3 separate regions of the Homo sapiens genome follow, and all the other regions are linked to region 1. The links come from fine-mapping of genetic effects on gene expression. A gene starts in region 1. Each other region holds a variant in brackets. All regions are shown on one strand. Distances are between the middles of the regions. Region 1 holds the start of TMSB4X (thymosin beta 4 X-linked). Region 2 has its middle 57 kb from the start of FAM9C. Region 3 has its middle 6.1 kb from the start of TLR8-AS1.

The links. PIP is the estimated chance that this variant, and not a neighbour inherited with it, causes the effect.
Region 2: its variant is fine-mapped to the expression of TMSB4X in adrenal gland (GTEx, PIP above 0.99).
Region 3: its variant is fine-mapped to the expression of TMSB4X in whole blood (TOPMed, PIP above 0.99).

What each region holds. Positions count from the first base shown.
Region 1 is chrX:12,970,192-12,980,265 of GRCh38, forward strand. TMSB4X (thymosin beta 4 X-linked) reads left to right here and starts at 4,919. Exons shown (of 3, transcript NM_021109.4): 1 at 4,919-4,977; 2 at 6,055-6,170; 3 at 6,586-7,032. The coding sequence starts at 6,071. The coding sequence ends at 6,620. RefSeq lists enhancers at 3,356-3,425, 3,436-3,695, 3,716-3,835, 3,959-4,798, 5,638-6,476 and 2 more and a cis regulatory region at 8,085-8,377.
Region 2 is chrX:13,096,285-13,106,358 of GRCh38, forward strand. No RefSeq gene overlaps it. Among named protein-coding and RNA genes, the nearest start is that of FAM9C, 57 kb to the left of the region's middle. RefSeq lists a silencer at 6,566-6,860. The variant G/C (reference allele first, on the strand shown) is at 5,604.
Region 3 is chrX:12,944,354-12,954,427 of GRCh38, forward strand. No RefSeq gene overlaps it. Among named protein-coding and RNA genes, the nearest start is that of TLR8-AS1, 6.1 kb to the left of the region's middle. RefSeq lists cis regulatory regions at 2,412-2,855, 5,817-6,229, 6,499-6,928 and enhancers at 2,730-2,859, 5,857-6,151, 6,557-6,851, 6,782-7,011. The variant C/G (reference allele first, on the strand shown) is at 5,956.

The sequences.
Region 1 (10,074 bases):
CGCCTGTAATCCCAGCACTTTGGGAGGCCGAGGTGGAAGGATTGCTTGAGCCCAGGAACTTGAGACCAGCCTGGGCAACATAGAGAGAACCTGTTTCTTAAAAAAAAAAAAGAAAAAAAGAGAAAAAACATCTACATGATGAAAAAGCTAGACAGCTGATTGAGACAGAATATAACTTTACCCTTATCTGGCGTATGGAACAAAGCCTTTAAAAGGCCTTAGGATTCTAGAGAAGAGTAGTGTTTAAATGAGGCGGCTTCTGAGCCAGCCAGTCTGAGTTCAAATCCTGCCTTTGGCTTTCGTTGTGTTTTCTTGGGGAAGTTATTTAATCCCTCTAGAATTCTCTCATCTGCAAAATGAGGAGAATAATGGTGCCACTGTCATAGGATTGTGTGAGGATTCGGGAAATACTACATGGAAAGCTTCCCAGTATATGGAAAGCACTCAGAAAGCACTTGCTGTTATTACTGCTATGGGTACAGCCATGATTGTTACTATCATTATTCTACAACCTGGCCCCTGCCTGGTTCCCAGCGTTATTTCCTGTCACTTTCTCTCATTTTACGCAAGTGCCTGCCAAGCTAAGCTACTCATTGCCCCCTGCGTTAACTCGAAGATTCTCTGCTTCCGTATTGTTCCCTGGCTGTGTGGAGGCTGAGTAACCACTTGGAGGGGATGTTGTAGAGGAAAATTCAAGCCACAGAAGGGAAACTGGGTTGAATGAGATCCCCTTTTACATTTCTTTTGGCTCTAAAGTTTCCATCGGATCAATAAAGCAAACAGGACAATTAGCAGCACGGCACTCAGCACTGAGCACAGGCGAGGGTGTTCTTTCACTCCTCTTTGCTTTCCTGCCACCCCCTGCTCGCCTTCCTCTTTGCACCATGTGGGTCCGCTCTGGGTGGGAGTCCTGGAGAAAGATACTTCAACTAAAGATAAGGCAGAGATAGGCCTCGGTGGAAAGACTTGGTAGACAGACCTGGGCATTTGATTAAGAGCAAATTGCTTAAATTCTCGGAGCCTCAATTTCTTTAGTAGTAAAATGGGGATATTAGTACTCACTCCATAGGGTAAGAATGGAATCAGATATTGTTTAAAAGGGCTTATAGCTGAGGTTACAAGATATAGCTAGTCTACTAAATATCCTTTCTCTTTTCATTTTCCTGTTATTCACAGGGGGGACTTAGGCTGTGTCTTTAAGGGGTTTTAGATTCCAATCAGTGGAAGGAGGGCTCTGCTGTGAGGGAGACCAGATGGAGACTGCAGGGGCCACAGGGGAACGTGGGGTGCAGGCAGGTGGGGCAGATGGTAGGAGGCCCTGAAACTCAGACAAAGGGATCTGGGCTTGAGAAAGCAAGAGCTGGGAGCTCAGCTTTGTTCCTGTTCTTCCGTTCCTCCCTCCTCTTCCTTCTTCTCTTCTTCTGGTAAGTTTTTGGCACAAAATTAAATAGGTTCAAACTAATAGAACTCATTTTCATGAATTCAGACTTCTAGCCAACTTCTCCATGGTTAGAAATAGCCACGACTCTATCCCAGGCCCGCCCTGGAAAGCAAAATAAAACTGCGTCCCCTGCCACCTTTTCCGGGTTCCACCAGACACAGGGTTGGAGGGGAACCGCCCTTCAACGCAGGCAATGTTGGCACATTTTTCATTGGGCGCTGTGGCCCGTGAGATGAGGAAGGCAGGACAGGCGCAAAGTGGACTCTACTTATCTTTCACCAGAGAGCCCCAAGGCCAGAGTGCACCATACAACCCGGAGTCACCCAAGGCCTTTTTTTTTGGGGGGGGGTCTCACTGGGAACAATGTCTGCACCCATTGTAAGCAGTTCCTTTGCCCCTGTGTGCCTCTGTCTTTTTAATTGGGATCGAAAACTGCTACCTCAATGGTAGTTGTGCCCGGCACATACTAACAGACTTATAAATGTAGCTGCCTGGGGCAGGGATGATCCTGGAACATTCTGACATCTAGAACATTAAGACTAAATGGATTTAATTATCTGGGGAGAAGAAAGCAAGACAATTAGAGTCACAGGTTCAACACCTGAGTTCAAGTACCTCCCTCATTTAAGAAAATCAATTCATGGAAGGCTGAGGCAGAGAATGGCTTGAATCCGGGAGGTGGAGGTTGCAGTGAGCCGAGATCACATCACTGCACTCCAGCCTGGGTGACAGAGCGAGACTGTCTCAAAAAAAGAAAAGAAAAGAAAATCAATTCAATGCAGTGGGAGAACTGTTATTGAGCAATTACTATCCACCAGACGCTGTGGAAAGCACAACTGCCTAGCTCCTCACACTCTTCCTGGTGATTCTCGGGTACAGACTAAGAGGATGTGGGGAGGACTTTTACATGCTCTTGGCATATATAACAGAGTGGCTACCAGCTGAGGTAACCCAATGATGGCTCTCTAAGCCTCAGTTTCCCCATCTGGAAATTTCTTATGGAAAGGCGGTGGGAAAGAAAGGAAAAAACAAATGTAAAACTTACGTTACAATGCCTGACTCTTAGAAAATATCAACCGACAGGAGTTGTCATGTTTTATTTGCTGTAAAACTACCAAAAGATCTTCTATCAACATTTTGTAAGTGAAAATAATAATATATATTCATATGTATTAATTATATAGAAATAATATATAATAATATATAAATGTCTCTATAGGAGAAATAATATCAAGACACCTAAAATTTTTAATTAATTCTAAACACTAAGACAATTATTTTATTATTTTTCCTCAACCTTCCATCCTAAATCATACGAATAATAACAATAGAAAGAGCTTACTAATTGTCATGCACTGTCCGAAGCATTTACTCCTCCCAACAACCCTGTGAGGTCGGTGTTGCAATGAACCCATTTTACAGATGAGAAAACTCCAGCACAGAAAGATTCATTCACATGGCCAGAGTCATGCAACTTTTAAGAATATTCCTTTGGTTTGCATTTCCTTGTATCTGCACCACCCTTCCCTTTCCTGTCTCTCTAGGTCTCCTGACCGGTTGGCAGGTCAGTCCCAATCATGGGAACTCTTTTCCTTTAAGCAGTCGTCTCTCTTTCTCTTCCTCTCTGTTTCCACCTGCCCTCCATCAGTGTCTCAGCACAGTGGAAGGCTGCTTGCTACCGCACTGGAAAACTTCTCCAGACATTTCCAAGTTTGCATTCGTCCATCTCCTTTGGAGAATTGCTTCAGTGAGGCCTAACCCTTTCTGAGGAAAGGCCCTTGGGAGAAGAAGCCAGGAGAAGGTAGTGGCACTCCTTTGTCATCAGGAGACATTGGGAGGAAAGAAATGATTTTCGACAGCAGCTGGGTGAGGGGAAACAGAATCACAGAACCTGCGGAAACGGTGTCGGTACAACGGCAGCTGCCAGCTAAACGGGCGAAAAGGCACCCTGCAAGATCTTTTCTGTGTTTCAACGATGAAGTAGACTCCCAACATGGAACAGGGGCGGGGGGGCTGTTACCAGACAGGTGACATTTGGTGCATGCACGAACAGGTCCAGTGCCCCATTCGGAGGCCAGGAAGGCAGCCACCCAGCAGAGCATTAACTAGGGGACCAGACGGTCACCTGCCCCTGCTCACCCCCACCTCCTTCCTCCCCAGGAAAAAGGAAGTCAAGTAGATGGAGAAACGGGGAAGTCCAAGCTGCTGGCAGTGGCATTCAAGGGTCTATATATAAGGTTGACTCTAATCCCCAGCGAGACAAAAGCCTGTGCCATAAAAATGATTAGCAAGGGGTTTCTAAAAACATTTCCCCAGGCCACGGAAAAGGAGAAGGAATATTTTGCACACTGCCTTGTCTCTTAGAAATAATCACAGCTAGGCCTCTTTATAACCGGCGAGTCTTTTTCCTTTCACACGCCATTTGCAGGCGCGTGGCATGGTATTTGTAACTAATTTTCAGTAGCAAGTGGGTCACTGGTATTCACAGAGTCAGGTGCCATTTTGAAAACTGCTTCCCTCTACCCGAATCTCTTATATTTCCAGATGCAGATGCACTTCAGCGATGTCCTAGTGCTGGAAACGCTCCCTTGAAAATATAATTTGATTTTTGAATTTCATCTTAAGACATTAGAGATAATGTAACTGTAGTCTTTGGAATTCAACGCTGGCCTCCTTAGCCATCACTTTTAAAATTTATGAAAATAAGGAAGAGGAAGGTAAAGAACTTCCTCATTGTCCGGCAGTAAAGTCAATGGCAGAGCTTGAGCTTGACTTATTTTGCTAAGAGGGAGGTGTTTTACCCTATAAACTCCAAATTACCTTACACCCAGCAAATACTACTGTTGAGTGCTCACAAAAATTATGCTGATGAAACAATATGGATGTTTCAGTGATGAAACTTTCTCTTTTAAAATCACTTAAGGGTGCTTTACGTCCCACCCAAGGCAAGAGGAACGCCAGCGAGGAAGACAAAGAGGCCCGGGGTGGGGCGCATGCCCGCCACTGGACTGAAAGCTGAGTCACAGGAATCGTACCCCTGCAGCGGGCCAGGCCCTCCAGGGAGGGACACCGCGCCCTTGTGTGGAGATGTCCACAGTAGACAAAGGCAGTTTCGAAATAAAAGAATGCCTGTCACCCCAGGTGCCACCCCGACCCTTAGTTATTATGCACTGGTCCCCAAGAGCAATTTCTGCGCTGCTGTTGCAAAAATTCATCGTAATGAAATAAACGTAAAAGGGGAAAATGTGTTATGAAGTGTTGGAGGGTGCTTTGCTCATTTTTTTCGCCATCGTTGTGGTTAGGGTGCATGCACTAGTGGACCCCGGGTGGGGGTGGGGCTCCCCTCCCCAAAAGCCCGGCAGGCCTCCGGATGCCGTTCCGAGACGCGGCGCGAAGGAGTTAAGCGGGCCGGCGGGTGACATCACCTCATTTACATAGGAGCGCCCATAAAGCTGCGCCCGCCGCACCCCGCCCGACAACTCGGTGGTGGCCACTGCGCAGACCAGACTTCGCTCGTACTCGTGCGCCTCGCTTCGGTGAGCCCCAGGGCCCCTGCCTCCTTCCTCCTGCCGTCCTGCCTCCGTCCCCGCCCTTTCATCATCCGCGTCCCTGTGAAGGCATTCCCTAAATCCGAGCCCGAGTGGTTCTCCCCGGGAAGGCTACTTTGGGGAGCTGGGGGGATGCGAAACACCCTAGATACTGGATAATGGGGTGGGGAAATCGATGATTTAAGAACAAAACCGAAAAACTGGCGTTTTGCCGTGCCGCTCGGAGGGGACATTAAAAAATTTCTTAGTGTTTGCCCGCAAAGGTATTGTGCGTTGCCTTGGAGGCTGAGATATGGGGGAATAGACAAGTCCTTTGTTCTGAGGTTCATCTTCCGAGCCCCGAGCCTCCTCCCAGCCTCGGACGGCTGCGCGGGCTGCATCTGTGCAGCCTGGCGGCGGCGGGGCTGTGCTATGACATCTTTACAGTCCTTCTTGCAGAGACATGTGTGCCAGGGATGCCGAATTGCCGGGAGAGCAGGCAAGACCGGCTTCGGGGCGCGCGGCGGCCGCTTTGTGTGCGGGGCTGCATTGTGACGCGGGCGATGAAGCCGGTAGGGCGGTGGTCGGAAGCTCCAGCCGCGGCCGCCGCCTTTGTGAGAGGACTAGAAAGCCGGATCCGGCCCGCATCCTTGCGGAGAGGCCGCGGCTAGGAAATGGAAACGCTTTTCCTACCTGGGCTCCATTTTAGGAATTCTTGCCGATTTTTCCCACTTGAATTTGGAAGTGGCTTTCCTCTTCTTTCCTTGTCCTAGCCAGCCTTTAATTTTAAACGCTGTAATTAACAATTCGCAGTGGTCAATTTCCTTTATTCTGCAAGATTCGGCTTTGAGAGGCATCCGCCCTCTTTGGTCCACAGCGTTTTGAAATATGGGGAGGAGGGGCGCGGGGGGTGTCGCCTCTTTTTCTGTAGAAAGAGGAAGCTCGTGAGCGCGGAACGGCAGCAGTAGGAGAGCGAGAAGGGTTTTTTTCAGGCTGCGGGTCGGAGGGCAGAAGTGCAGTTCCCAGCCCAGAGACAGCGGGGCGGGTGGCTCTTCCTCACGCTCGCTCTTGGCTTGCTCCCTGCAGCTTTTCCTCCGCAACCATGTCTGACAAACCCGATATGGCTGAGATCGAGAAATTCGATAAGTCGAAACTGAAGAAGACAGAGACGCAAGAGAAAAATCCACTGCCTTCCAAAGAAAGTGAGCTCCGACCCACCCCCATCTTTAGAAAGGCTGGGTGGGAGCGGCCGGTGGGAGGGCGGGAGGCTGGGAGCGGCCGCGGGAAGAATTCGGGAGGGGGGAGTGCGGGGGAAGAGCCGACAGTTGATGAATGTGGCTTGCAAAGGTTAATTAAAAATGGTTTTGCAGCCAACAAACACGGGGCTTTAGTAATTTAGTAATGGAATATTTAATATGCCATATTAATATACAAACATTTATCCATTAAAATGTATTTCTATTTAGTATATTCAATATACATATTTTATTCCATTGTGGAATACCGTGTAGAATGTTTATGATTTGAAAAGATGCTTTAAATGAAAGCCCTTTAGTCTGTACTGAATCCTTTAATCATCTCCCTCCATCTTTTTTTTTTTTTTTTTTCTGGTCACAGCGATTGAACAGGAGAAGCAAGCAGGCGAATCGTAATGAGGCGTGCGCCGCCAATATGCACTGTACATTCCACAAGCATTGCCTTCTTATTTTACTTCTTTTAGCTGTTTAACTTTGTAAGATGCAAAGAGGTTGGATCAAGTTTAAATGACTGTGCTGCCCCTTTCACATCAAAGAACTACTGACAACGAAGGCCGCGCCTGCCTTTCCCATCTGTCTATCTATCTGGCTGGCAGGGAAGGAAAGAACTTGCATGTTGGTGAAGGAAGAAGTGGGGTGGAAGAAGTGGGGTGGGACGACAGTGAAATCTAGAGTAAAACCAAGCTGGCCCAAGGTGTCCTGCAGGCTGTAATGCAGTTTAATCAGAGTGCCATTTTTTTTTTTGTTCAAATGATTTTAATTATTGGAATGCACAATTTTTTTAATATGCAAATAAAAAGTTTAAAAACTTAGCTGGTGTGTCTGTTTGGTTTCTGGAAGGATCGCGGATGAAACCTTTGCAAAGAGGCCTACCTCTTGGTCCATTGGGGAGGGACAAGCATCTGGTGACTGGATAAATTCCCTTATGGCATAGAAATGGGTTTCACCCAGGTATGCAAAATACCTTGTCTATACTAGGAGATCATTTTCTCAGGCTGATTGAATTCCTAGTATGAATTGTGTGAGAGCTTTAATAAAAATATCTTTGCAGTTCTTACGGGTTTTGATAAGCTGACATTGCACGTGCTCAAGAAAATGAAGGTGATAATTTACAGCACAGTATCTTATTTCAGGGTATCAAATTGAACTTGGTTATTTAACCAAGTGCTAGCATTAACATAGATGAGTAAAAATTACATTTTTAGCAGCTGCGTTAAGAAGGAATTTAGGACTTGAGCTTACTCATTTTCTAATGGCCGGTTTCTAATCAGAGTTCAATATTTACAATTGCTTTAATGAATACAGTTAAGATTAGTGAACATGATTTTAAATTTATTGGGTCCTCTTCATTTGAATAATCTTTGGATTTAAAAGATACTTATTCGATCTTTTGGGTTTAAAGGACACTAGCAGGACACAGGTGAGATTTGTACTAAGTTTAAATCCAGCGGGAATTAATTGACTCACATTTAGGTCTTTGAGTCCTTGATAACTTCTCAATCATCGGAAGTAGTTATTTTCACTGATGGGTAAAAGCAAAGTCCTTGGTGCGGGAAGACGGAAACAACGTCAATTTTTTAAGAGTTAAAAAAAGATTTGCCATTCTATAAGGTCCTTAATGGATTCCTCGGTTCTGTAGGGAAGGGTGGAGACTTTTTTTTTTAAATAAGCACCAGTTTTATTAAGCCGAAACAACAGCATTTAAGAAGGCTCTTAGTTCACTGAATGTTCTGCAAAGCTAAATTTTACAACGCAAATGTCCAAGAAGTTAAACATTTTTCTCTCAAAACCGATTTATGAAAATACCCTTTTTGAAGCGGAGGGGTAGGGAAAATTGTTGATCACTATTAAATTGGTTGCTTTCATTTCCTTTGCTCAACGCTTATTTTGAGAAATGCACAGGAAACCATTTACCTGTGGTTTAGACAATCAAGTAGACCATCAGGCTAGAAGCCTTGCTCTGCGTTGCAAGGGAAGGGGTGTGTACAGGCTGCTGCAGAGGCTGCTACAAAACCTGAAGCGCCACAGCCCGCTTAGCTCCGTGAAGAGAGGAGTAAGCACAAAGGTTCTGGAGCCATCTCAAGATGGAGACGGGCCTGGAGCCCTGTAGTTTTCTTGCCTATAGGGAAGGGTGTGGGCACAGTGCAAATGCCCAAGGCACAAAGAGAAACCATTCCCACGTGGGCTTTTGCTGTGTGCCTTTTTCAAACAATGCAAAGACGAAAGAAGATTTTAAGAAATTAACACAGCTCCAGTGTTCCTCAGTTGAAGAAGGAACATTTAGGAAAAGGGATAATTCATGGACTAAAAGACCTTTCTCCCCTAGAGGGACGAAGCTAAAACATAGCACAAAAAAAAAAAAGTAAAATGGTAATGATTGAATTCAGGCTGCTTGACGTGTGGAATGGGGAAATTCAGAAGCTTCTGCCCATATCACACTCTGTACACTTAACTGCTGCACACGGGGATGGGAGAGAATTTATTTTTTTAATTTTGATGGGGGATTCTTTGTTTTTCCCAAGAGAGATTCTTCCCAGAAGGGCTGGGGGTATTTATGAGTCAGTGTGGGGATATATGTTCCTGCTATGTAGGACTTGGGAGTCGACAGTATTTTTCACAGATACAAAGAGGACATTAGGTTTACCCTTAGAATGAGAGAACGTTGGGATTGAAGGAGACCCTATGACTGTTTCTCTTCCCCCCAGGACAAAACAGGCCAAGGTAGCTTAAGTAAGCCCCGAAGGTCACACAGTTTAGTCTGGGATTTCTGCAAATTTTGAATTGACCAAGACAAATAAAGCAAAAATAAAGGAAATAAAAAGAGACTCACTAAAGGACCTTTGAGATTGAGCTGGCTTCATTTTGAAATCTCGCAAATTTGTCAACCATCACAGCCACATTTGCAGCCTTCCAGTGGTTGGAATTTTAAAGCTATTTTATTCTTTCAGGAGAACAACACAGCTTTTGGGCTGTGTATGCAAAGATTGAGTGTGTATGGGGGGGAGGTGGGGTTCAAAATCTTCACAAACTTTGAGTCTCTCGGCTGTGTAAGAGACCCATTATAGTCAGAATCAGGTATTGTCTCCTTTAAATGCACAAGGAAGGTCTGTTTATTTTCCCCCAAAGAAGCATCTAATTCCTCAAGAGACAAAAAGAAAATATTTTTGCATTTTTTTTTTCTAAACATATGGGGTCAATTTTGTGCTAACGAGAAAGAACAGAGCGTTTTGGAGACAATATTACAGACAAAGAGTAAAAATAAAAAATCTTGAGTCTTTCTTTGTTCAAGAATGGAAACTTCAAACGTTGTTTAAAAACGTTGAAAGCACTCAATGCTTCATTTACCCTAGTAGCCTTCACTAGCCTAGCAAGAAAATAAGAAAAAACCACCCTCCGCACTCCACACTCCCCAAATCCTTTCTTTTCGATTACACTTTCAAGAGTGGCTTACACTGCAATCTAAGAGAATCAAACACACCAATTTGGGACTCAACTAGGTTTTCTCTGCATGTAATGAGAAGGGGTGAAATTACAAATGTAAGGCAGAGATATACAACAAAGCAAGCTAGGAAGAAAATATGTTTCTAAGACCTGTATTTACCTAGTTTATATTTTCCTTGGACACTTGCATAGCATTTTATTTCTGTAATCACATTGTCGTGCTAATACCATCTTTGCCCCTGGCTTCTGAGACTTTTGTAGGCAGGGCTGGTGCATGCCACATTCACTGTGTGCATACACCACGCACTCTTCCTTCTGTGCCTCAAAGCACACTTCTCCCCTTACTTGATGGAGACTTCATTTTTTTTTATTTTTATTTTTTTTGAGATGGGGTCTCTCTCTGTCACAG
Region 2 (10,074 bases), 130 kb after region 1:
TTTTTTTTTTTTTTTTTTTGAGATGGAGTTTCACTCTGTCACCCAGGCTGGAGTGCAGTGGCGTGATCTCGGCTCACTGTATCCTCCACCTCCTGGGTTTAAGCAATTCTCTGCCTCAGCCTCCCGAGTAGCTGAGATTACAGGCGTCCACCACCACACCAGGCTATTTTTTTTTTTTGTATTTTTAGTAGAGATGGGGTTTCAGCATCTTGGCCAGGCTGATCTTGAACTCCTGACCTCATGATCTACCCGCCTTGGCCTCCCAAAGTACTGGGATTACAGGCATGAGCCACCACGCCCGGCCTCCTCTGTATATTTTTTATGGAATCACTTCTTTCTTATTTTAGTTCCACTAGCACAAGTAAGTTTTGATTTGGGAAATGGTGAACATATTACTGCACATGTTTTGTGGGCCCACAGACTCTATCATAGACTTTTTGTTGTTGTTGTTGTTGTTAATGTCCGATTTAATGATATAAAATTTACCTACAGTATAATTTAACCCTTTTATGAATACAATTCTATGAGTTTTGTAAAACAAATGTAGAGATGTAACTACCACCACAACTAAGATATTGAGTATATCACCCCACAAAGTTCCACTTTGCTTCTTTGAAGTCAGTCTCCTCCCACCAATCCCCAGTTCCTGGAAACTACTGATCTGTTTTGTGTACCTATAGCTTTGTTTTTTCCAGAATGTTGTATTAATGGAACCATATAAAATGTGGCCTTTTGTCTCTCACTGTTTTCACTCAGCATGACGCTTCTGAGATTCATTTATGTTGTGCATATCAGTACTTGTTTCTTTTTATATCTGAGCAGTATTCCATTACATGGATATACCAAAGTTTGTTTATACATTTACCTATTAATAGAGCATTTGGATTGTTTCTAGTTTGGGGCAATTATGAACAGTGCTGCTATGAACTTTCTCTTAGAAGTACTTGCGTAGACAAGCATTTCCATTCTATTAGTAAATTACCTAGGAGTAGAAATGCTGAGTTGTATGCTGTGTTAAAAGAAACTCCCATACAGTTTTCCAAAGTGGCAGTATCATTTTGCATTTCCACTAGTATTTGATAAGATTTCCAATTGCTTTGCATCCTTGGCAGTATTGTCAGTTTTTTTTTTTGTTTTTTTGTTTTTTGTTTTTTTTTTTATTATAAGCCAGGCATAGCCCCAGTTACTTGGGAGGCTGAGGCAGGAGGCTCGCTTGAACCCAGGAGTTTGAGGTTGCAGTGAGCTAGGATCACTCCACTGTACTCCAGCATGGGCAACAGAGTGAAACCCCATATCTAGAAAATATTTAAAAATAGTTAAGTAAAAACTGTAGACATTCTCTTGGGTTTTCAGTGGCATTGCATTGTGCTTTTAGTTTGCATTGCCCTAATGACTAATTATATTGAACATTGCCCTAATGACTAATGATATTGAACATTCATGAGCTTCATGAGTGTATTTGCCATCTGTTTCTCGTGTGTAATCAAATCTTTTGATCATTTTTTAATTGAGTTGTTTGTTTTGTTTGATTATTGGAATGTGACAGTTCTTTAGATATTTCTCGATATGAGTTTTTAAAATCAGATACATGATTTGCAAATATTTTATCCAAACTCTTGACTAGCTTTTTTATTCTCTTACCAGTGTCCTATTATACACTCTCATTTGCAGTGAATTGGGGTTGTTTCTTGCCTTCACCCCTGTCATCTTGGACAGCAGGGTAAGGAGATAGGTGGTGCCATTGGCTTCTGGTCCAATGCATAACACTCTGGCTTAAGGTCTATTATGGGTTGAATGTTTTGTGTTTACCCCTAATTTACATGATGAAATCCTAACCCCCCAATGAGATGGTATTAAGAGATGGGGCCTTTAGGACATAATTAGGTCATGAGAGCTTGTTCTTGCTCTCTGCTCTCCATTATGTGAGGATACAATGAGAAGATAGACATCTGCAAACCAAGAGGTGGGCCCCCACCAGACACTGGATTTGCCAGCACCTTGATCTTGGACTTCCCAGCCTCCAGAACCATGAGAAATAAATGTTTACTGTTCAAGCCACCCAGTCTCTGGTACTTTGTTATAGCAGCTCATGCTGACTAAGACAAGGTCAGTCTCCAGAGAGAAGAATATTGACCTAAACATTGGATTCTTCACTTCTCTAACTGCAGAGTACATAGAATAATTGGGAAAGTTTGATTAGTATGCAGATTTCCAAGCTCCACTTCCAGAAATGTTTATTCAGTACCTGTGAAGTGAGACCTAGATTGTTGCGATATTTAATAAGCAGCCAGATTATCCTGATATAGGTGGCTCTGGGATGAGACTTTGAGAAATCCTGAATATCTAAAGCCACTCATGATGCTTCATGTCTGGTGTGGTAAAGATGCGAAGTCTATGTCCAGGCCTAAACAAGATGGTGAGGTGTAAGTCAGAGCAGGGGATGTTGCCACACAATTAGACAAAAAGAGAAGAATCACCAAGAATGCAGGGATTTTAGGGCATTTATACTGAACATTCAGCCTGTTCCCTCATCCATCACTCTGCTATCATAGGCATGTCGTAATAAAAGTGGCTTTCATGTGTGATATTTTATTTGAATATAAACTGGAGGGGAAAGGTTGTTGACAAATAAATAAATTTTGGCACACTAAAAAATATCAATCAGGCTGCTGTGGAGGTTCATGCCTATAATCCCAGAACTTTGGGAGGCCAAGGTGGGAGGATCACTTGAGGCCAAAAGTTCAAGACCAGCCTGGGTAACATAGCAAGACCTCATCTCTATTTAAAAAAAAAAAAAATCAATTCTTAACCTTGATCCTGAATAAGAATATTGTCTCCTTATGTCATACATTACTGGGCTGCCAGCTATGGTGCTGTGATGGATTCTGGTTCATATTTTTAGGTCCACTGTTCTTACAGGAAGTCATCATGACCTTTTTCAACAGGGATGTGTGGAAGCTCTTTGGTCTTACAGTAATACTTTTCTAGACAAAAGTAGAACTTGTCCTGCTTATTTTCAAAAAAATTCATGAAGGATATTGGAGTATGAATCATTATTGTGTTTTAGAGAAAAGGAAACACAGACAGTAGCAACAAAACACCCAACTTCTATGTAAGGGCAAAGGGAATTTTTCCCTTCCCCTCTGAAGGTTTGAGTCTGCTGAAATAAACTGATAAAGAGGAGAAAGGGCATACAAGTTTATTAATGTGTAAGTGTGTATGGGAGCCATACAAAATATGATACTAAAAGAAGGGCCAGATGGGTGAAGCTTAAATAGCACATTCTTCACAGAAGGGAGAGAAATAGAGGAATGTAGGCAATTTTGAGGTGTAATGAATGATTTTCAGGGGAAATGAATAAGCCCATAGAAGAGACAATAGCCTGGGACAAAATTTCTCTGAGCTCTGGAGAGGTGGCTGACAAATTTCAAGAAAGTGAGGGGTAGAACTTCACTATGAACAAAGGTTGTCTTATTATGTAAGTAAAATCTTCCAGGTAATCTCTTGGACCTTGCCTCAGAAGAATAGAAGTCTGCCTGGGCATGGAGGTGACTTTTAGTCTTTTCTCCTCTTTGGTGGCCAATCTTTCCTGGTTATTTGATGAGATTCATAGATAAGGGGTTTTAAGAAAATTGAATCTCTTTTCCAAGAAGTTTTCTTCCCACAGATAAAGGAACTCCCAGAGAGAGCCCCTTCATGCACTTTAGGGGTAGAAACAAGGGAAGGTTACAAAGTCCTTGGTTCTAAAGGCAGCTTTTAAGGACTTCCAATTTCCTTCACTTCAAAAGTGCTCAGCATGCCACAGCTGATACTTTGGGGTATCATTCTCTGAGCCCCAACCTCTATAAAATCCAGGCATCCAGATATTTGGACTATGTAATACCAAACAAACCAGTTGATCTGTTTTTCCTGAATTGGACAAACTATTCTGACATTGCATAAGTACAACCAGCATGATTTAAGTTTTATTTGCAGACAGAAACCAATTGGGACTGACCTGATTTTCTATGTTAATTAATCAAATATTGTTGTTCAAACATTTTGGTACCTCTCAGCTAAAAGAATTTAAAAGTCCTGTTACTTTAATCCTGTTGTGGAATGTTTTTTAAAACTTATAGCTAATTAACAATCTTCATGGGCAACTAGAGCACCTCAGGCTCTGGTAAACATAAGGGATCAATGGTTATTAATCAAAGGTGGTGTAGTTGGAAGAAGCCTGGAGTAGGAGGCAAGAGACCTAGGTTCTACTGCTTGCTTGAGCTGAACTGTGCTTCCTTAAGCTTCCATGAGAGTAGATACCTTCTAGCAAAAAAAAAAATAAGAGAGAGAGAGAGAGACTAGATACTTAAGGAAACATACATTTGTAAAAAGACTAAAACCAAAGTGATTAACTACTGTCTAAATATAATTCATTCCCAAAACAGGCAAGCAAACAAACAACAAAACAATCCTAACAATGTAGGTGTTTATGTACCTCCCATATAAAAAGGATCTGAAACCCTGAAGCCACAGGATTCAACCAGGCAAGTAGAGAATTATTTTCTTTATTTTAAAACAATACTAAAGTCATGCATAATTAATGCTGAAAAATTAGAAAATAAGGAAAAAGAAACTAATCAATGAATAAAATCAATTAAAACTCTACCACCCAGTAAAAACCACTGCTAGCATATCAGTGCTATATTCGTCCATAGATCCATATACATACATGATGCATGTATATTTCAAATGGGATCATGTTGTAGCCACTGTCCTGAAATCCTGAAATCTGCTTCTTTGAGCTAATGCCGTATTGTGAAGCAGCTTGCGTGCTAATAAATATGCATCTTCATCACCCATTGTAATGACTACATTATATTCCATTGTAGGCTTGAAAATATTAACAACTAACAAACCTAGTGCTTCCTCTGTGCCCAGCACTTTTCTAAGCACTGTAACAGCATGCCTGTGAGGTAGGTAGTATGATTACTCCTGTTTTACAGAGAAACTGAGTTAAGGAGAAGGTAATTAACTTGCCATTTGGGGTTCAACCCCAAATGGTCCAGGATCAGAGTCCAAGCTCTGAACACCTGGCCATGCTGCTCCTTGCCTCTTCCTTTTGGTTGGATCTTTATGTTATGTCTAATAGTTCATTATTTTAAACAGTGCAGGTTAATTTAAACCTCTACGTCCTCAAAAGAGTGGTGGTGGAGGGTGGAGGTAGAAGGGGAAGCATTGATAAGAGATGACTTTTTAATAAGAGAGTAACAGAGAGACATTCTTTTGGATAAAATCAGATTAGAAGGTGTTCATTCTCATGGTAAAAGTGAGAGCTCATAAAATCACTGTAGTTACTTAGGGGAGGGGGAATTTTCAGGCATGTGCAGAAGGCGTATTTGCAGGACTGTGAGACAGACAGATTTCACCAATTACATAGATCTACATGGAAGAAAATGTTAATAGCAACTGCGTAGTAGAAAAGAGTAGCCCTGCTAATGAAAATACAGAGTTAATTTTCTGTAGTCTGAACTTTGACCCATTGTGAAGACAGAAATAGAAGTCCTTGGCAATTAGAGTAGGAACTTGCTGTGAAGGAAGTGAACATTCATTTGAGACTGGGTGTG[G/C]TGGGAAATAAAGCAAATGATGACTCACAGACAGATCAGCGGACAAGGCGAGGCTAGGCCTGGGAGGAGCGAGGAGACCTGAACGAAGCTAGGCAGGCGCTTCTCTGTTCAGACTCACAAGGCGTCACTGGCTCACTCTGGACACAGAATATCTTTACTGATAGCTGCACATCATTATTATTTCATTTTACAAATTACACAACTGGCATATTCCCACTGTAGAATAGTTTTAAAGTGAGATGAATAAGAAGAAAGTAAAGTGAAATCCATCCATTACCTTAGACATTCTTAGATACCCATATTAAGAGTTGGCATATATTTTCACATTATTTTCCTATATACTTTTAAAATAAAGATGGGATTTTCACCACTCAACAATAAACATATAATTGCATCATTTTTCATATAATGGGATGCTATGTAGCCATTAGAAATGATAAAAATATGTTATTTGACCAAATAGTAATGGGCATTGTGCGTACATGGTCTTAACTAGCCAGTAACCATTTTTCCTTTGGTTCATGGAATTCATGAATTCTACAAAGTTAATCTTATATTGGGGTGATCTCATTGACTTTTAAGTGCCACTGCAGTTAAGTAAGAGTGGGGATGGGGTATGAACTTCAGGAGTGAAAAAAAACAAAAACAAAAACAAAACAAAATGCTTTATTACAATATCTTTTCCAAACTACTTTGGATGGCCCCGAGGAGGTCAGAAAAAGAGGAGAGCGATTATCATTAATCTTATTCCTCTCTTTACAGCCACATTAACCTGAAAGAACAAAAATGTAGAATACCTTCCTCATCTTCTCACTTTTTCTTTAACTCTCACATAGTAAGGAATCCAGAAGAATAAGGCTACAAAGCTACAGGCAAAACAGTAACAGGAATGGCAAGCATGTCCTGTTTGTGGACTAAAAACACAGAGCATTCCTTGGAAAGCCAAACTTTTGATATTGAGATTAGAAAGAGGTTTTCTAGGGCAGCACATGTCCAAGTATTAAACACAAGTCAGATCTTATGAAAGTCTAAGCAGGTCATAAAACAACCCAATGAGCTTAGAAGAGTGGAGAGCTATAGTTAGAGTGCCTGGACCCTTGATTATCTTATTTCCATGAGCTCTAATTAGCATAGTACAGAAGACATTAATGCAATCAGCCACAATTATTTATTGAGTTTCTACTATGTGTCAGATGGTTTTTTGGGTCGTGGGTATGTAATACCGAACAAAAGCATCATGGTGCCTACCCTCACAGAACTTATAAATTAGCAGCAGGGTGGGGAGTGGGGGGTGGTAAACAAGTGAACAGGTAGACAAATCATTCTAAAGAGGGACAAGATTCTAAATAGACATTTTTCCAAATAGGCTATTCAAATGGCTAATACCCACGTGGAAAGATCCTCAATTAGTCATAAGGGAAATACAAATCAAAACCACAATGAGATATTTCATCAAACACACAAGAAGGGCTATTATAAAAAAAGACAAACAACAACAAATGTTGGTGAGGATGTGGAGAAATTAGAACTCTTTTACACTGCTGATGGGATTGTAAAATGGTAGAGCCACTTTGGAAAGCAGTTTGACAGTTCCTCAAAAGTTTAAACACAGAGTTACCATATTGTTACCTTATGCAATAAAGAATTTGGGTCGAGCCCATAGGGTAAAGTGAAAGAAAGTAAAGGAATAAAAGAATGGCTACTCTATAGGAGTAGGATCACTCCATAGTAGTGGCATGAGCTGCCCGACTGAGTATACTTATGGTTATTTCTTGATCATATGCTAAACAAGGGGTGGATTATTCTTGAGGTTTCTGGGAAAGAGGTGGGCAATTCCTGGAAGTAAAGGCTCCTCCCATTTGTAGATCATTTAGGGTAACTTCTGGACATTGCCATGGCATTTGTAAACTGTCATGGTGCTGGTGGAAGTGCCTCTTAGCATGCCAACGCGTTATAACTAGTGTATAATGAGCAGTGAGGACAACCAGAGTTCACTTACGTTGCCACCTTGGTTTTGGTGGGTTTTGACCAGCTTCTTTACTGCAACCTGTTTTATCAGCAAGGTCTTATTGACCTGTATCTTCTGCTGACCTCCTATCTCACCCTGTGACTGAAAATGCCTAACCTACTGGGAATGCAGCCCAGCAGGTCTCAGCCTTATTTTACTCAGCCCCTATTCAAGATGGAGTCACTCCGGTTTGAACGTCTCTGACAATATGACCCTGCAAGTTCTGTCCTAAAGAAAATAAAAACATACATCCACACAAAAACTTGTACACAAATGTTCATAGCAGCATTATTGATAAAAGACAAGAAGTAGAAACAACCCAAATGCCCAGCAACAGATGAATGGATCAACAAAACATGAATAAATAAAATATACATATGGTGGAATATTATTCAACCATAAAAAGGATTGAATTATTGATACATGCTACAACATGGATCAACCTTGAAAGCATCATGCTAAGTGAAAGAAGTCAGTCACAAAATGCCAGAAATTGTATAATCCCATTTATAAGAGATGTCCAAAATAGGCAAATCCATAGAGACAGAAAGTAGGTTAATGGTTGCCAGGGACTGAGGGTATGGGGGAATGGGGCGAGACTGCTAATGGATATGGGGTTTTCTTTGGAGGTGATAAAAATGTTCTAAAGTTGATCGTGGTAACAGCTACACATCTTTGTGAATGTACTAACAGCCACTGAATTGTACACTTTAACAGGATCAATTGTACGACTCGTGAGTTATTCCTTAACAAAGCTGTAAAAAACAAAAGGTGATGAAGTGTGTTGAGGAAACAGAAAGAAGCCCTGAGACACGAAAGGGCCTTGTGTGCTCCAGGAATGAAAGAGGAGGCCCGTGTGATCGAATGCTCTAGAGGGCTCGGAGGGGACAGCGGATCTCGTGTTTAGGCACATGAAGTCAGTAATTATAGGCAGTTTGGGATTATGTTCAATGGGCAGTGGAAAGTCCTAGAAGCCTCTAACACCCAGCAGTTATGTGACCCAACTTTTATCTTTAATAGCTCTTTGTTCCTGAATTGTTAGGGCAGAACTAGATTGCTATTATAGCTCCTAAAACCAGATAGAGATCATTAACTTAAAAATTTGGAGTTAAAATTAGCAAGGGGCTATTTTCTTTTGATTTAGGACACATACTAGGAAAATGAGGATATCAAAATACTTCTTTCTTAATAGCACAAAAGAAGAGCCTTATTATAGTAAATAATGTAAGTTTTTCATTTTTTAAACCTAAGCATATTCTGTTGCTTCTATAGGACACAAGTTGAGAATTAAACCATTTATTCATGCTCAGTATCACATTTATATTACACATAGGTTCAGGTTTAATTGCATTTAAGAGAAGGAGGGAGTAGAAGATGTTTAGCAAAGGTCATGGTGGAGTGAGCCAAGGCATTCCTGTATGTCAAATGTGGGATCATTGGTCTATCCCCACAGGGCACAGGGGACCGGGAATTCTTCTGGCTTCTTGGTTGAAAATGTGAAGATGTTATTGGGACTAATGATTGAATTGTACAGATCTGGAGACTAATACTCCCAGATGAAAAGAGATGGGCTTTGCCAACCTCAGGGAGGGCAAGTAAACAGCTCAGGAAAACAAGGAGCAGAACTGTGCTGGAAGGCAGCTGAAGGCAGTGTGCTCAGCCTGGGACAGCAACTCAGAGCCCAGCAGTGGGGAGTGAACAAGCTCCAGTGTGGCACCTGCCAGGGGTCCCAAAAATGCCCAGGTCTCACTCCGTTACCTAGGCTGGAGTGTAGTGGTACAATCTCGGCTCATTGCAACCTCCGCCTTCTGGGCTCAAGAGATTCTCGTGCCTCAGTCTCCCGAGTAGCTGAGACTACCGGCACATGCCACCACGCCCAGCTAATTCTTGTATTTTTAGTAGAGACGGGGTTTCACCATGTTGGCCAGTCTGGTCTTGAACTCCTGACCTAAAGTGATCTACCCTCCTCAGCCTCCCAAAATGCTGGGATTACAGGCGTGAGCCACCACGCCTGGCCAGATGCCCAGGTTTTTGTGAACCCTTTCCAAGTTCTTCAACAGCGTGAGGCTTGTGAAACTTCTGGAAAAAATTTCCCTTCACTCCTGGCAGTGACATGAGCAAGACAAGAAACAAAATATAGGAAGAGTGGCGCTTAACAATTTTAGTAGAACATTCAGGTACACACATGTGTGCACATGCACACACACACACACGCCGCCCCCCCCGCCCCCCCCGCCCCCCACCACCCTGCGAAGCACCATGCTAGGGAATTCCAAATATGTTAGAACCTGGTGAAGAGAATCCATGGGGAGGAGAGAAGATTGGCGAGCCTGATTCTTCATAATTTAATTACCATTATCTTTGAATGCATTCCATTGCTTGATTGTATTATAATTTACTTAGTCTTGTAACTATAAACCTTCAGGTTTCTTTCAACTTTTTAGCATGACAATGTTGAAACAT
Region 3 (10,074 bases), 26 kb before region 1:
TTTAAAAACACACCTCACCAAGCTCAGCCACCAGCTTAAAAAGGACTGGACAATACTTTTACCACTTTTCCTTCTCAGAAGTCAGACCTGTGCTCAGAATGCTACAGGGTACAGCCCATTTGAGCTCCTGTATAGACGCTCCTTTTTATTAGGCCCCAGTCTCATTCCAGACACCAGACCAACTTAGACTGTGCCCCAAAAAACTTGTCATCCCTACTATCTTCTGTCTAGTCATACTCCTATTCACCGTTCTCAACTACTCATACATGCCCTGCTCTTGTTTACACTGCCGGTTTACACTGTTTCTCCAAGACATCACAGCTGATATCTCCTGGTGCTATCCCCAAACTGCCACTCTAAACTCTTGAAGTAAATAAATAATCTTTACTGGCAAGGCTATGCTGAACCTCCTTAGGCACTCTCTAATTAGATGTCCTAGGTCCTCCCAATTCTTAGTCCTTTAATACCTGTTTTCTCCTTCTCTTATTCCGTTTAGTTTTTCAATTCATACAAAACTGTATCCAGGCCATCACCAATAATTCTAAATGACAAATGTTTCTTCTAACAACCCCACAATATCACCCCTTACCACAAAAACTTCCTTCAGCTTAATCTCTCCCACTCTAGGTTCCCACGCCGCCCCTAATCCCGCTCGAAGCAGCCCTGAGAAACATCGTCCATTATCTCTCCACACCACCCCCCAAAATTTTCACCGTCCCAACACTTTACCACTATTTCGTTTTATTTTTCTTATTAATATAAGAAGACAGGAATGTCAGGCCTCTGAGCTCAAGCTAAGCCATCATATCCCCTGTGACCTGCACGTACACATCCAGATGGCCGGTTCCTGCCTTAACTGATGACATTCCACCACGAAAGAAGTGAAAATGACCTGTTCGTGCCTTAACTGATGACATTGTCTTGTGAAATTCCTTCTCCTGGCTCATCCTGGCTCAAAAGCTCCCCCACTGAGTACATTGTGACCCCCACTCCTGCCCGCCAGAGAACAGCCCCCTTTGACTGTAATTTTCCTTTATCTACCCAAATCCTATAAAACAGCCCCACCTTTATCTCCCTTGGCTGACTCTCTTTTCGGACTCAGCCCGCCTGCACCCAGGTGAAATAAACAGCCTTGTTGCTAACACAAAGCCTGTTTGGTGGTCTCTTCACACGGATGTGCATGAAACCAATGAAAAAAAGACCAAAACAACAACCAAAACAGAAACAAAGAACAACAAAAAACAGCTAAGCAAAGCAAACAATGCCACAATTTATAGGTTGGTGCAAAAGTAATTGTGCTTTTTGCCATTAAAAAGAATGCAAAACCGCAATTACTTTTGCACCAACCTAATATATGATTACCAAGCGCTCTAATGGTAAGGATAAATTAAAACCAGCTGATTGTTAATTTTAACTTTAGCCAAGACAAAAGCCCAATTCAGCTACTTACCTAGGAATGGGGCTCAGGCTGAACACTGCTCTCTACCATCTTTGAAGCAGGAAAAAACTCAAACTCGCCTTCCCTGTTGGAAGTGAGCTGAAATTCCAGAAAGGAGTTACCTGCACTCTTCATCATGGAAGCAGGAAAACTTGCCTTCCTTTTTGGGAGCAAGTGAAACTCCAGAAAAGGAGTTATACAGCAAAATAAACTTTAGATCTCAACCAAATTTGGAGAGATCAGGGATTCTCTTGGTCGGGGGTGGGGGTGTCTCCCAGGCCTCAGCCAATTGTCCTACTGGCTTGAGCCATAAAGATAGCTCAAGCTGGTACCAAGCACCAACAGTAGATTTGTCAAAGGTCAGGGGTACCTCCACTCAGAATCCCTTCATGGTTACCAATTTGTGAATCCAAAATATCTGAGACAGGCCTCAGTCAATTTAGAAAGTTTATTTTGCCAAGGTTAAGGATGCACCCATGACACAGCCTCAAGAGGTCCTGGCTACATGGGCCCAAGGTGGTCGGAGCACAGCTTGGTTCTACACATTTTAGGGAGACGTGAGACATCAATCAACATGTGTAAGATGTACATTGGTTCCGTCCAGACAGGCAGGACAACTCGAATCAGGGGAGGGGGCTTCCAGATCACAGGTAGATAAGAGACATTTGTTGCATTCTATTGGGTCTCTGATTAGCCTTTCACTGAATATACAATTCACATGGGAGAGGAGGGTGGAGGAATAGTCACTTATGCCTGGTCTGCCTTGGTGAAACGACAGGGCAGAGGAAGCAATCAGATATGCATTTGTCTCACATGAGCCTCAGAGGGATGACTTTGAGCTCTGTCTGTCCTTTGTCCACGAGGAATTTCCTTGTGGGCAAATTGTGAGGGAGGTATGTCTTTTTTTTTTTTTTATCTTTGTAGCTGTCTTATTTAGGAATAAAATGGGAGGCAGGTTTGCTTGACGCAGTTCCCAGCTTGACTTCCCTTTAGCTTAGTGATTTTGGGGTCCCAAGATTTATTTTCCTTTCACAACTCCCATCTGATATATTTAAGGGGGAATTCTTTTGTGCCTACAGCATTGTTAGTGGAATGTGGAGCGACAGCAAGGGATGGGCCTAGCTGGAATTTACCACCAGGGGGCTTGGACTCTTTCTCATGCGTCAACACCAATCACTGCCAATAGGGGGCAGCAACAATTTGCCTACAGCCTTTAGGCTTTGGTTTTAGACTCAAGGAGCTCAGGGTGTGGAATCTCCATTGTTTTTCCTCTGAAACTTGGCTTCTTATCTGCCTGCGGACTCAAATCCTCCTCCTGCCAATACTACAACAGCCACAGAACAAATGCATTGAAACTGAGAGAACTGGTAAGAGGCTAGATCTAGTGTAAATCAGAGAATGGGCCTCATAAAAGGAGCAGTTTGGAGGAACCTAATCCTTCACAGTTTGTCTAGCAATTTCTAGGTTCAATCAATTGAGGGCTTAACTGGTAAACTCAAGTGGAAATTTTTTATTGGCTCCTGGTGATGTCACTCCTGGTGAGTGTGGGAGAACTGGTTTTCTAGGTGTGGGGATTCTTTATTCTCTGAAACACCCACTAGGAAACGCCCTGAGGCCTTTTCACCTTCTGTGGTGTCAGGACCTCTCATGTAACTGGATACAGTGCTTTTCCCAAACAGACTATACACAACAGAAACTCAAAAAATAGAAACGCTAAGTGGGAATAAGGGAAATAAACTACAAGAGTAGTGGTTCTCGACCTTGGCTGCACATGGGAATCACCTGGGAGCTTCAATCCGCAAGGACCAATGCCAGGGACCCCCCTACCCCCTGCCCCCGAGATTTGGATTAACTGGTCTGCATGCAACCAGGGCAGCTGGCGTTTTGAAAGGTCCCCAGGTGGTTCCCATGTACAGCCAAACTGAGAACCATTGTCAGATGTGCAGTCTTTGCTCCTGGGTCAATTAATTCCTCACGCCCACTAACTACTTTAGATGTCTTATGCTTTGAGCACATTTAAAATAAAACCCAAAACTTAATAAAACAAAGTTAGTACACAGAGAAATAGGAACCTGATTAAAATAGAACATGAAGTCAAGTCAGTTTGGTTTTGTTTTAAATCTCCAATTGCCACCATTAATTCTGCTCCCAAAGGTCAATAATGCTAGCCTGCTATTTGCTTTGTTCACTTCTGAATGAAGCACTTGTGTTTGCTGACCTTCAAACACTTCCAGGTTGTCTAAGAGGAAGCCATGTGGCACTTTGACTTTTGTGTGACCTGGCAATTTGTTTACATCAAATCCCTTTTAACCCTCTGCAGTTGACAGTGGAGAATTCAGTATTTTCATATGCTGCCTAACCTCTAGGGTGGAAGGCTTTAAACTTGATTTAGGTCAAGTTGGCAGTGACCCAGGTGAGCCCCCAGGAAACTGCACTTCCACAGCCAAAACGTGGCCATCCACCAACTTAGGCATGACAGTTACAGTTTTGAACCTGCTATTAAGTCCCACAATTCTCTTGGTTAGTTAGAGTAATCAAACCTGTCAAGGGTAGGCAGAACTGGAGGAGTGAAGAATGGTTTTGAGGGTACAGTGGAAAAATCAACTTTGGAGTATGACAAGCCAGCCTCAACACTCAGTCACTCTTACCAGCTGTGAGATCTTAGGTGGGTTTATCACTGGCTGTGAGCTTGACTTGCCTATCTATACTATAAAGGAATAAAAGCCCCTTCAGGTGGTTTTTCTTAAATAAATGGAATAGACCTGTCATGTGCTGGTAAATGTTTAACAACTGGTTCTCAAGGTGGTGGGGGCAGCCCTGATTTGGAGTATTTCCATGGTGTAAATACTGTCACCATGGCAGATCTCAAGACACCAGTGTGACAGCTCTGAATGTGGAATTGGGAAGAGGTATGCGCCATCTGGGATAAACCATCTCCTAGTACCTACCTAGAATGCAGCAGACACTCAGGATGTTATCCCCTGCCCTTCCCCCTCATAGGAACATCTATGCTGACAGAGACCTTTGCCATTATTAAAGCATTTTTACAAACACTATCTCATTACATTCTCAGGTGAGATGGGCAGGGCGGGTCTTATTTCTACTTTTTACAGACAAGAAGCCTCAGGCTCAGAGAGACTGGACAAAATTGCTCAGGGGCACACAGCAAGTAATCTACAAAATGAGCATAGCAGGCAGAGTAGCAGCCCCAAAACATGTCTGCATCCTAATCCCTGGAACCTATGAATATTTGGTTACATGGCAAAAGGGAATTTTGACTGCAGACGGATTTAATATTGCTAGTCAGGTGACCTCCAAGTAGGGAGATCATCCTAGATTATCCGGGTGGGCCTAGTGTAGTGACAAGGGCCCTTAAAAGTGAAGGAGGGCAGCTCAAGAGGAGAGTCAGGGGGAAATGTGACTATGCAGGACTGGTCAGAGAGATGTGACATTGCCAGCTTTGAAGATGGAGGAAGCAAGGAATCTAGAAGGCCTCTAGAAGCTGGAAAGGCAGGGAAGCAGCTTCTCCCCCAGAACCTCCATGAAAAGATGTAGCCTACCAGGTACGTTGATTTTGGCCCAGTGAGACTTCTGACCTCCAGAACTTTAAGATGATCAATTTGTGTTGTTTAAGCTGCTGGATCTGTGGTCCTTTGCTACTACAGGGATAGGAAATGAATTCAACGGGACTGGCAATCAGATCTCCTTATCCCTCAAATCTCAGCTCAAATTTCACCTCTTGAGGGAGCCATGTTTTTCCTGCCTTTTCTAGGCCTCTGGTTTTACCCGAGTTCTGATAATATCTGGCTTTAGGCACTCACCAGATGGTTGTGAATCTTTGCATACTTGCTGGTTTTCTCCCTAATCCCCAAGTGGCAAGAATATTCTTTTCACTTTGCATCACTTTCCACTAGCACAGCTCCTTCCCCAAGACCACAGCATAATAACTGCATTCAGAATGTGTGAGTGTGAAAATAGAGGAATGAATGAATGGGAGCTGACATTAACAATAGTACTGCACCCCAGCACCACCAGGAATCACGATGCTGAGCTGTCACTGTTGCAGAACAATTAAAAGCATCTCCTGCTAGTATCCTGAGCTACCTACCCCCTTCCTGCAGGAAAGACTTCCCGTCTTCCCACTGGCTCACAGAAGTGGCCTTTTCCTCCGGAAACCAGCGTGCATCTGTTAGCATCTTTTGTCTTTTGTGGGAAAGGGAGGATTCTGGCTCCAGACTGAAGAGGGACAGGCATGGTGTGTGGGTTCACAGAGCCCCAGACTCCAGACTCTGATGCCAGCATCTTTGTCTCAGCAAAGGTCATAATTGGATTTGGATGTTTAAGGCAGTCACTGATTTACTGTTCTCATTTTTCAAGTGTGAGAAATACTAACTCTGTGCTTTGCTTACTTCTAAAGGAACAAAGGCAGTATGAGCAGCCTTTAAATACTGCCACATAATACACTGAGAGCAGACATGACCACGTGCTACAAAGAGTCAGGGCTACGTAGGAAAGTT[C/G]ACATCGGCGTGGGAAGTGAAAGTAAGCCACGTCACCGTTTCTGTCACGTGACAGCTGTGGGGTGTGGAGCAACTCACTGAGCCTCTTTCCTGGTGTGTAAGATGGGGATAATGATAGCTCCCATTCACTGACCGCTTCCAAAGTGCCTGACCCTGTTCTAAGCCTTCACTGTCATCCTGATTTTATAGTTAGACAGTTTGTCAGTGTCAGAAGCAGAATTGGCTACATAGTTTGCAAGTCCAGTGCCCTGGTTCAAAAATGATTAAGAATTTCAAGATGGTGGTAGCAGAGCAAAAAACCAAGCCCGGAGCCCTCCTTAGTGTGGCTCTTATGTGACTGCACAGGCTGCACACCCTGGGCAGAATTAGTATACAAATCCTGCAGCCTGACTCCAGAACCTTCCATCTTAACATCTATGCCACAAGAGCTGTCTCCTAAGGTGGCCGTGAGGTTGGAAATGAGACTAAGGCATTCCTGGCAGAGGGCACAGTGTGAATGATCTGGAAATACAGGCGTGGACAGGAAGATGAGGAAGGAATGATAAACTCTCATGGCTAAAGCTTTGGTGAGCTGAAGGAAACAGAAGTGTGCTGGTAGGCAGTACTGGCTGCAAACTGTGCCCTCCCTGAAGGCCAACTATAAAGTGCAAGGCCCTTGTACTTTATAGGCGACTGGTGTTGAGGATCGCTGGAAGGTTTAGAAGCAGGGGGTAGCATGGACGCAGGCAGAGAACTGCCCCTAGGGGGAAGTGTGGAGCAGAGCAGACTGGGGCCTGGGCACCCGCTAGAGGAGGCCGTTACAACCACACTCTAGGGATCTCATAGTGAGAGGCTCAGGGAGTAGAGGAAGGAAACAGGGAAAACTGAAGGTCTTCAAGGTAAGTAGAAATTATAGCTTTGGAATACGATCTGGAAACAGGAAACTGGGGGAAAGGAAAAGCTTCTGATGCCTGCTGGCCTGGCCTTCTGTTTGAGCGCCATCAGGCCCGTATGGAGTATCATGATGTACACAGACTGCCTTTGCACCCATAGAAAACAGGGTACATCTCTTCAGGAAGTAGAAACTCTTTGAGCAAAAGAAATCGATTTAACTTCCTAAAAACAACAGCTGTTACTGGCTATAAACTCAGTCATTTCTCAATTTGGGTTTTTCCCCCAAAATATTCCCTTCCAATTTTCAGAGGCATAATCAGTTCTGTGATTATGTTGCTTGCACATAATTAGATCACACAGTAATAATAATAACTGTAAACTCTGGAGGAAACAGAGTGCAATTAAAACCAGAAAGAAAAAAATCTCCCAAACCTCTCCCAGATTCTTCTCTCAAACTTGGGAGTGGGGCACCTCAAGCCCAGTGAAGGAATCAACATATTTTACCCCAAAATATATTTCTTTGACATATTTTGAGATGGCTGTTCACAGGGCCCGCAAACAGAAGCAGCCCTACAAAACTGTCTCATGTGGCGAAGATTTGCATCTGCAGAGAAAAACTACGTTGATACAGCCAGGCTTTCTCTGAGGCTCTCTCTTGTCCATATCTAGGAAAAACTGAGAGTCTGATACCTTTAAAGGTCTGAAAGAAACATTTACTATCTATTCTGTCTGAGAGCGGCTACCTCTGAGATTTCTCCTATGTAACAAGAACGCCTTTGCCAGCCAGGCCTCCTCTTCTCCCCATGCCATAATCTCTTTGCCAAGATCCAAGCCTCCAGTCTTTCTGTAACCTCAAGGCTTCTGTACCCCACTGCGGGGATTGGTAATCACTCTATGGTTCTCCTCCATGTGCACAATAAATTTGTATGCTTTTTCTCCAATTAATCTGCCTTTTAATTTATTATTATTATAAATTTTTTTTGAGACGGAGTCTTGCTCTGTTGCCCAGGCTGGAGTGCAGTGGTGTGATCTCAGCTCACTGCAACCTCCGCCTCCCAGGTTCAAGCAATTCTCCTGCCTCAGCCTCCCGAGTAGCTGGGATTACAGGTGCACGCCACCAAGCCTGGCTAATTTTTGTATTTTTAGTAGAGACAGGGTTTCACCATGTTGGCCAGGCTGGTCTCAAACTCCTGACCTTGTGATCCGCCTGCCTTGGCCTCCCAAAGTGCTGGGATTACAGGCGTGAGCCACCATGCCCGGCCTATTATATATATTTTAATGCTCTCTCTCAGCAGAGTCAAGAGGATTAGTTATCGGTGTGTTGGACATACTGAGTATAGGGGGTCTGTGGGATATGTAAGAAGAAATGACTACTGGGCTGTTGCATATGTGGTTCTTCATCTCATTTTGTTTTAGAGCCAGAGTCTCACTCTGTCACTTAGACTGGAGTTCAGTGGCGAGGCTTTTTTTTTTTTAGACAGGGTCTTAACTCTGTTGTTTAGGCTGGAGTGCAGTGGCACAATCATAGCTCACTGTAACCTTGAACTCCTGGGCTCAAGCAACCCTCCCACTTCAGCCTCCTGAGTAGCTGAGATGACAGGCACGTACCACCACTCCTGAATTTTTTAAAAAATGTTTTAGGCATGTACCACCACAACTAAAAATTAGGCGTGTGCCACCACACCTAGTATTTAAAAAAATGTTTTCGTAGAGACGGTGATCTCGTTATGTTGCCCAGGCTAGTCTCAAACTCCTGGACCCATGTGATCCTCTGGCCTCAAGCGATCCTCCAGCCTCAGCCTCAGCCTCCCAAAGTGCTCAGATTATACCCAGTGTGCCCAGTCTATTAATCTGCCTTTTTTGAGTTGATTTTTCAGTAAACCTTCAGAGGGCGAAGGGGAGGTTTTCCCTTGGCCCCTACCCTGGATTCAAATCCTAGCTCCCACTTCCCAACAATGTGACTTTGGGCAAGTCAGGTAACCTGGTTCTCTTCTATAATGTGAGGGAACCATTCTAGCACTTAACCTCAATCATACTGCATTACCTTGTTCTGAAGTTTAAATGAGAAATTCTTAGACTAGCCTTCAGCATGTAGTAAAGCAGGCCATAAATGTCAGATATTATCATAATCTCCAGATTTTCTACAGTGATTCTTGAATGACATTTAAGATCAGAAACATCCATGTAATTCTCATATTACTATCATTGTTATGTATTCTTTCTCTCCGAATGAAGAATGAAGGTACCATCCACTGACACCACAGTCACGAGGTTGGGTCAAGCCTTATGACCACCCTAGAAGCCTAGACAGAAGGGTTCAAAGGCTCTTCCTCTCATATGGGCTAGTAATAAACAGGGTCTCTAACAGAATAGCGGAAACCTGAGTTGAGCATGTTCATGAGGGAGGGGAAGCTGACGCCCACATCAGCACTTGTTTTCGAAGAGGAGCTGTCTTGGCCCAGAGCCGTGGCTCACGCCTGTAATCCCAGTATTTTGGGAGGCCAAAGTGGGAGAATTGCTTGAGCCCAAGAGTTCAAGTCTAGCCTGGGCAACATAGTGAGACCGTGTCTCTAGAAAAAATTTAAAAAATTAGACAGGCATGGTGGTGTGTGCCTGTGATCCCAGCTACTCGGGAGGCTGAGGTGGGAAGATTGCTTGAGCCTAGGAGGTCGAGGCTACAGTGAGCTATGATCACACCACTGCACTCCAGCCTGAGCAACAGAGCAAGACCCCGTCTTAAAAAAAAAAAAAAAAAAAAAAAGAGGAGCTCTCCAGATTAATAACAATCTCCCCAGTTTTCATGATTCAGGCGTCAAATCCTGCTGCCCCATATGGTTCTCACCACTCAACGAGTATTATTTACAGAGGGCCGTCGTTGCTATGTCCTGGAGATACAGAGACAAATAGGACCCAGGCCGACCACTGAGGAGATCCAACCTGATGGGGAAAGAAGACAGAGAACACACAAGTGGGGCTAGACACGGTGGCTCACACCTGTAATCCCAGCACTTTGGGAGGCTGAGGCGAGTGGATCACCAGAGATCAGGAGTTCAAGACTGGCATGGCCAACATGGTGAAACCCTGTCGCTACTACAAATACAAAAATTAGCCGAGTATGGTCCTGTAGTCCCAGCTACTGGGGAGGCTGAGGCAAGAGAATCGCTTGAACCCAGGAGGGAGGGGTTGTAGTGAGCCGGGATTGCGCCACTGTACTCCAGCCTGGGCGACAGAGAGAGACTCCATCTC